Regions from separate parts of the Homo sapiens genome. Here all the other regions are linked to region 1. The links come from fine-mapping of genetic effects on gene expression. A gene starts in region 1. Each other region holds a variant in brackets. All regions are shown on one strand. Distances are between the middles of the regions.

Region 1 (2,765 bases):
AAGTGAATATATACATATGGAGATCAGAGAAAGACTGAGATTGAAAACATCAAATTAGGAGATGCAATTTAAAATCAAGGCACTAGATGTGGTTACCTAAGGAGTTGAGAGACAGAAGGAGCCACCAGGCAGTAAAATGAGAGAACAGGGGAGTATGGAGTTTCGGAAGCCAAAATTTTAGAAAGCGCTTTGAAAAGGAGGTGATCAGTCATGGCCAATGCTGCTGAAACGTCATATAAGCTGAGGACTGAGAAGTGACAATCAGGTAGAGCAAGGTTTTGGTCACTAGCGACTCTACATAATCGAATGGAACTCGATTATGTAGAGTGAATCGAGTGGGGAAAGTGAGTAAAAGCAAGATTTTCAAGTTTTCATGAAAATGGGATAGTGACTGAATAGGGACGTGGAGTCTAGAAGGTTTTACTATTATGTTTTTTTAAGATAGAAGACAGTATAGCCTATTGTGGTGAATGGAAATGACACAGTAAAAAGTGGGCTGAGAACCCCTCAGGCTTGCAATGCTAATGCTATGTGACTGGGATGCAGAAGTCCCCAAAGCATGCAGAGCTCTTGGGCCTCCCTTAAACCCCACTGAGAGCTGTATCAAGGCCAAGGTGGGGCAAGTGTTACCAAAAACACAGCAACAACACAGAAAAGAAACATGTTAACTTTGAGAGCAGTGATTCTCAAAGTTTGAGAGCAGCATTCCCTGAGAACTTGTTAGAAATGCATATTCTTGGGACCCACCAGTCCAACTAAATCAGAAACTCCAAAAACTAGGGATCTGAGTTTTAGGATACGTGCTAAGGTTTGGGTCCCACTATTCTAAAGGAACTCAACAAAAATTCAAGTAAAGATGAAACCGAGTGCTGACTTTGTTCCTTATGGGCCTAAAATAACAAAGCTTTAAAGACAAGAGGGGATTTTTCAATTGTCTAATTGGCTTCGAACCTTACCTGTGGAGGGATCCCAGACACAGAGAAGGTGTCTGAGTTGTCCAAGTCCTCCAGGCCGGACTGAGAGGACAACTCCAAATAATAGAGAAAAAAAAAGAGACAGAGAGCCAGGGATATGGTTGTTTTGATGTGCCATGAAGTTGCAGCCTTTCTGGATTTTTTTAGTATCGATTTATATTGCTGTTTGTCTACCAATACTCAAATCAGAGCAAGACGGTCCGCCTTACCTCAGTCTGGCTCTTTTAAGGTTTGATTTTGGTTTTGGGGACTGCAGAGGTGCAGCTTCCCACGGCAGACCAAGCGCCTCTGAGGAACGCAGCAGCTTCAGCAGGTACAGGAAGATTTCCCGCAGCCGGAGGAATCTCCTAGTGCTGGGCCTCCGGCTGTGACTTTTGCCATTTCAAATTCACTTGGCCTCTAGGGAGAGGCAGACAGCCCGACGCTGAGCGCGTCGGAGCCCCGGCTCCCTCTGCTTCTGGAGAGGAGATTTAGCCTTAATTTTTGTGACAGATGGAGTTGATAGTCTCTCCACGGAAAGGGGAGGAAAAAAGCGCCAGTTTTTGACAGGCCGCAGACGCCCGCTGCCTCTGGTGGCGGAAGGCTGCGTTGCGCCCCAGTTAAGGTAGCTCGGAAACTCCCTCGCCGAGAAGGCAGAGGTTTCCTCTGCAGAGCAGCCTCCCTTAAATATACTGAGGGGCTGAAACTTACACTTTAATATAAACCTTTGGTGCGTGCCCATTTATTCCGTCTTCTGTCCTGTGACTGCGGCCAGGTGGTAATTGCTCGACATTCCTGAATATTTTTAATGCTAGTTAAATTTTTTCATTATTGCACGTGTTGCAAGCTTATCTTCCTAAGAAATTATTTCGGTTGATTGGATTTCGGTCTTGCAATTTGAAAACGATGCCTGGCGCACGGGCGGTACCTGCCAGATGGCCTAGCTGGGGCTGGGGGGTGGCGGGCGGGTTGTAAGCATCTCATCAACATCTCCCTAATAAAGTGTGTGCTTCTTTCTTGTATGCTTCTTTAAAACAGTTTCAGTCTCACATTTTATCTCTGGATTCTCCCCTTCCCCTCTGTGGTGATCAAGACCCAAAGACAGGGAGCCTGGAAGATAAACTGAGTTCTGAATCCAGTCGAAAGCACAGATGGGGGCCAGCGAGAATTAATAAAACTACAAAAAAAAAAAAAAAGAAAAAAAAAACAAACAAAAAAGGCCCGTGGCTGAGCCGGATGCAAACAGCTGCCCCTAAGCCCTGCCCGCTGGTTCTGTGCGCGAGCTGGGGCTGCATATCCGAGCCTCCTTAAGAGTAGGAGGAGCTCCGGGCCTCCGTCAGGCTCCCTAAGCCGTTCCTTTCAAGCCCTGAATGCCTGAATGTGAGCTGCCCACCACCCTCCCGCCCTCCCCCACTCCGCAACCCCACTCCAGCGGCTCGTAAAAAAAAAAAAAAAAACTTTCAACAACAACAGGCAGGACCAATAGCATCTCGAAAAGCCGGGAAAGGGGGCCGAGCAAAGGGCGAAAGAGAGTGGAGAAAGGAGAAAGCGGGCAGGCTCGGAGCGCGCGGGGCCGGGGCTCGGCGAGCCGGAGGAGCGTTGCTAATGTTTTTGTTTGTTTGCTTTTCCATGCATGCATAATGAGGGGGCACCGCGGCACCACGCGGGGGCTCCCGGCCCACTTTTGTATTTAAAGCCTCGCTGCTAACGAGTCTGCAGCCGGGCTCAGCGGATCCGCTCCCCGGGCTCTTGGTCACCCGAGAAGCTGCCGCCGAGTGAAGCCAGGGAGCCGCTCTCCGGCAGCGCCGACTT
Region 2 (2,765 bases), 49 kb before region 1:
ATTGAGTTTTTCAGTTCCACACTCTGCTTCACCTCTGTAGATGGGACCTGTTTTCCTTCTGAGAAGGGATTGTCACCAGGTTATCACCCCCACACCTAGGATACCTTTGCATAGTATCTGAAGCTGGATTATTTGGGCTCAATTTGTAGTTCTACCACATAGCAGTGTGTTGCCTTGAACAAATTACTTAAATTCTTGGGGTCTCAGTTTCTTCATCTGTAAAATAAGGATAATAATAGGATTTGTCTCAGGATTATAATGAGGGTTAAATAAGTTAATACTTGTATAGTGCTTAGAACAGTGTCTGGTACACAGTAAGCTCTATGTAGATTTTACTTTTTATCACTAATAACAAATTGATTAACTTTATTAACATACAATTTTAATATTATGTCTCATCACTCTAGAGATAGTCTCCCTTAGAAATGGAGAACTGTATGACAGGTTTTTCTATGGAGTACTACTGTGTATTTGGATTCTTAAAAATGCAAAGATATAACGTAGAATAATTGATTTGAGCTTTGTTTTCATGAGTTTTACTTCTCTCTCTGCTCCTTCATTTCTAATTTTTTTATTATTGTTCAGTACAAGTATGATAAAAATTATCCACATCTGTTATTTATCTTTCCATCCTGGGGCAAGGCAAATGTGTATAGTTCCCCCCAGGATAACACGAACCATATGGAGCCTATGGAATTATATGTATTATCAGTTTATAAATTCAGACTTTGCCAAAGACTGTCCACAAGCAGCCCAGAGTTCTGGGGTGCAAGAGTTTGCACTGGGATGTTTATATTCAGCAAACATATTGGTGTAAAACATGCTTGCAGCTGGTGCCTCCTCAGAGAGAGGGGGCTTGACGGTGCTTTGCTGCACATTAGGATCGCCTCAGAAACTTTAAAAAATATCAGTGCTGAGGCCATACTCCATACCAATTAAAATAGAATCTGTTGGGTAGGATCAGTGGTATCAGTATTTTTGGTTTTCCAAATTCTCCAGGTGATTCCATTGTGTAGACAAGCTTGAGAACACCAAAAGCTTTAGAAAAGAAGATTTTGCATCTTTTTGGCCCCTATAGGAACATGCCTAGGAACACAAACACACCCTCATTTGGAACCAGTTTTTGCCATCTCCAGTATACGATGCACAC[A/G]CCTGGGTAGAAATTTCATCTTGCTCAAATCCCAATTAGCATCCCTGAAGTACTATACCTCAAGAATATCCTTCTTAACAACAGCAAGCACTGATTTGACTAGACTAAAGATGATTTAATCTAGCCGTATTGAGAGGGAGAAAGAAAAGAGAGAGAGAGTAAAGAAACACAATCCCCATCCATCCAATTTTCAAGTCAATTGCTACTCATTCAACAAATTACATCCTGGGCTTAACACAAATTCTGTATCTGTTACCCTTAATCACATGCAGTTGTTCCTCAAACAGAGACCAGAAGGTGGCAACCAAGGTAAGCTCCTTACATCAGCTGGCTCCAATTCAGTGTCCTGGAAAGATTCATGCAGAATTGTGGGTCACTTTTCAGAGGACGGTCCACTGGATGCCACTCTTAAGGCCATTTGCTTTGATTTCCTATGAGCAATTTCACTTTCATGAAAATCTCTGGGTCCTGCAATTCCTTATGATGGTCTCAGTGCCTACAGAATCCTTTCCCAAGTTTTCCTCTTGTTGCAGAGAAACAATGAGGCATTTAAGTTACTAGCAAGAGCTGTGTTGCCATCAAGAATTGAATTCCTCATTTTGTTTTCTTAAATATTAAATAGAAGTAATATTTCAGCCGGGTGTGATGACTCATGCCTATAATCGCAGCCCTTTAGGAGGCTGAGGCAGGTGGATCACCTGAGGTCAGGAGTTCGAGGCCAGCCTGGCCAACATGGTCAAAGTCCCTCTCTACCAAAAATACAAAAATTAGCTGGGCATGGTGGTGGGCACCTGTAATCCCAGCTGCTCGGGAGGCTGAGGCAGGAGTATCGCTTGAACCTGGGAGGCGGAGGTTGCAGTGAGCTGAGATCGTATCACTGCACTCTAGCCTGGGTGACAAAAGCGAAACTCCATCTCAAAAAAAAAAAAAATAGAAATAATATTTCAAACAATAATTTTCCTTTGTATGTTAAGTTGCTTTGCTGTATAGAACCTGTTCCTGACTGCTTTAGGTAAATGATTTTAGTGATTACAGATTATCTGTAAAATGAGTAATTATTTAATAACATGATCTCCAAGGCTATTTCTAGTCCTTAAATCTAAAATGATCTGAATTTGAGCATTTAGAGGTGGTAGTGTAGTTGAAAGACAGACAAAAGTTCAAGTACCAATTTCACTACATATTTTGGACAAGTTACTTATTTTTTCTGGGCCTCAATTCCTACACCTCTAAACAAGGAGCTGATTATGGTATTTGCCTCCTACGTCTGGAAAGTCAGGTAGCAAAGCATGGGTTCTAGAGTTAGGCTGCATGGCTTGAACCACAGTCCAAGCAGACTCAGCTATGTCACTTTGAACAAGGTATGTAACATCCTTCTACTTCATTTCCTTCACCTGTAAAATTGGAATATGACAATGAATATTTCATAAGGGAATCATGAAATGATGTAAGTTAATGGATATTGAATTTAGCACAAAACCTGTGTTAAATAACAAACATTTAAAAATAACTATTGCTATCATCACCATGTCATCAGTGTAAAATAAGATTGCACAGATAAAGTACAGATGCTAGAGACGTGCACACTATCATCCTCCTTGTCTTCCCCTCCCCT
Region 3 (2,765 bases), 190 kb before region 1:
ACAAAAGTTACTCTTTTAATTAAGGACATTTCCTTTTATGACTTTCTGAAGGTAATGGTAACATGCACAAAGATTTAATAGTTAGAGGGATTTTGTTTAAGTGCTGATCACTCTCCATGCAATTGAAGCCTATTTCATGGAGAAATGTCTTTGGTTTTTATATATTTTTTTATTATGACAGCCTTTCCTCTAAAGCAATATTTAAAGTAAATTGGCTGATTTGAGCTTAAGGATTATAGGTGTCTGGTGACTGTTTCAATTAATCATTATTTAAATGAATTTTGTGAAAACCTAGTTTTGCTGTCCAGTTTGGTAATGACCAGCCGCAGATGCCTATTTAAAATGAATCTTAAATGAATTACAATCAAATAAAATTAAGTATTTGGTTTATCAGTGGCAGTAGCCACATTTCAAGTGCTCAATAGCCACATACAGCCGGTGGCTACCATACTGAACACAGAGGTAGAACATTCCCATCATTGTGAAAAGTTCTGTCAATGGCACTGAGTCCTAAAGCATAAAGGCAGGTGGACTGCACAGTGAGCACACTACAGATGTGGGAAGGTGTCAGCACTTGGAAGGCGGGCACCATGTAGCTTAAGGAACGAACAGTGAAAGGTGATGTCCTATCTGGGCAAAGTACCCAGGCAGAATAGGTTTGATGTATCAGTGTCGAAACAGGTGCATGAAGTTCAAACCTGAACAATTCTGGGCAGGATAATAGAATCTAGTCCATATACCAGGAGCAAACTCAGGGCTAAGAAATGGACAGTACCAAAGTCTCTGGAGCAAAAAAGAATAAGAGAGAAAGACAGAAAATGTAAAAACACAATTGGGATATGGCAGTCATCTAGACTCTCAAGGAATGTTGTATTCAATTCCCGCTGCTGCTTTAACAAATGCCCACAGACTTTCTGGCATAAAACAACACAAATTTGTTATTTTATAGTTCTGTAAGTCAGGAATCTCACTGGGCTAAATGAAGGTGTCGGCAGTGCTGTGTTTCTTCTGGAGGTTCTAGTCTCCTGGCCTGTCTCCAGCTTGTAGAGGCGACTTGCATTCTTTGGCTCTGTGGCCCCTTCCCCCATCCTCAAAGCAGCAGCATAATCTGTTCAAATCCCCCTTTGACTCTTAGCCCTATTTCCCTCATCAAGTCTTCTTCTCTGAGTCTTATCCCCCCCAACCTCCCTCTTATCAGGACCCTTCTGATTATATTGGAACTGTTCAGGTAAACCGGGATAATCTCCTCACCTCAAGGTCCATAACCTGAATTACATCTGCAAAGTCCCTTTTGCTGTGTAAGGTAACATATCCATAGGTTTTCAGGATTAAAATGTGGACATCTTTGCAGGGAGAGGCATTATTCTGCCCATC[G/A]AAAGTACAGTAACACCAAAATGCCTGCTTGAGGTTTGGTGACTTCACCAATTTACAATTTAGAGGTTGTAAAACCCACAGAGCAGGAAACAATATATTAATTTATATCCCACCTAGTTTCAGAAATGAATTAATAGTGTATAACAAGATATAACAGAAGATAAAGGGCATGTCATATCACATATAAATAAGGCAAAAAGAGAAAAATGGAACGGGATAAGAACATAATGGAAGAAAGAATGAGATTAGGAAATATGCTCTATAATGACCTCCACTCATCCATCAATACACCTATAGTCATCTTAAAGTCAGAATTCCTTGACTAGAGAATCCAAGTGTGTCCTCAATGTTACTTGAGTAATTTTGACAAGGAGTGCAACTAGAATTTTCAAATAACCACATCCTGAGGGTCAAAACAACAGAGATGGTAACTGAGCATAGGGGAGGATGTTTGTTTCAATGTAGCAGAGTGAAACTGCCTCTCCCTTTCCCTTAAGATTTGGGAAGATACAGCCTGAGGAAGAAGTGATGCAACTTGCTATGTTTCTTAAAGTCCAACTATATTTTGGTCACTGAGACTTCAAGGGTATTTAGAATTTAGCATTTTCCAAGTGTTAGCCCTTAAGAGATTATTTATTGTTTATATTTCACTTAATTCCAGGAGTGAGTTAGTGGATTATGAAAACAAGTATAATATAAAATAGAGTGTTAAATACACTTTAGATGAAAGAAAAAAGATACATTAGAGAAAGAATGCCATGAAGGAAGAAATGAAGCTTAAAAAGTTCATTGTGTATCGATCTAAATCTGTTCAGGTTTAAGATATGGCCCTAACCTGGCCACTTATACAATTGACAATGTTTTTAAGATGGAAAAGAACAAAATGCATCACTGAAAAAGATTTCAATTATTCTTCTAAAGCAAGATATGTAATTCTTCCTGGTGTCCTCCTGAACATTACATAATGATTGATGTCCTCAACAATGTACTTTCCTTGGATATTGAAGCCTCGTAAGGTTTTTTTCTATGGCCCTTTGCATAAGATCTTGGTATGCCCAAAGCACAATTTCATAAAAAACAATTCTGTAGAAATCCAATAAAATAAAATTTGCTTACTGGCTTCTTTTTTAAATTGATACATTATATTTATACATATTTATGGGATCCATGTGATATTTGGTTACATATATAGAATATGTAATGATTAAGTCAGGGTATTTAGGATATTTATCACCACTAGCATGTGTCATTTCTGTGTGTTGAGAACATTCCAGATCCTCACTTCTGGCTCTTTTGAAATGTATAGTATATTGTTGTTAACTTATAGTTACCCTACTCTACTATGAAGCATGAGAACTTATTCCTTCCATTTAACTGTAAGTTTGTACCTA

The links. PIP is the estimated chance that this variant, and not a neighbour inherited with it, causes the effect. A credible set is the group of variants that fine-mapping cannot tell apart.
Region 2: its variant is the best candidate, but not a certain one, in a credible set for the expression of GAS1RR in esophagus muscle (GTEx, PIP 0.55).
Region 3: its variant is the best candidate, but not a certain one, in a credible set for the expression of GAS1RR in nucleus accumbens (GTEx, PIP 0.53).

What each region holds. Positions count from the first base shown.
Region 1 is chr9:86,947,412-86,950,176 of GRCh38, reverse strand. It overlaps GAS1RR (GAS1 adjacent regulatory RNA), which reads right to left and starts at 1,479. Exons shown (of 7, transcript NR_049794.1): 1 at 1,184-1,479. It overlaps GAS1 (growth arrest specific 1), which reads left to right and starts at 2,671. Exons shown (of 1, transcript NM_002048.3): 1 at 2,671-2,765.
Region 2 is chr9:86,996,045-86,998,809 of GRCh38, reverse strand. GAS1RR (GAS1 adjacent regulatory RNA) reads right to left here. Exons shown (of 7, transcript NR_049794.1): 6 at 1,407-1,496; 7 at 1-216. Among named protein-coding and RNA genes, the nearest start is that of LINC02893, 45 kb to the left of the region's middle. The variant A/G (reference allele first, on the strand shown) is at 1,151.
Region 3 is chr9:87,134,863-87,137,627 of GRCh38, reverse strand. No RefSeq gene overlaps it. Among named protein-coding and RNA genes, the nearest start is that of LINC02872, 12 kb to the left of the region's middle. The variant G/A (reference allele first, on the strand shown) is at 1,375.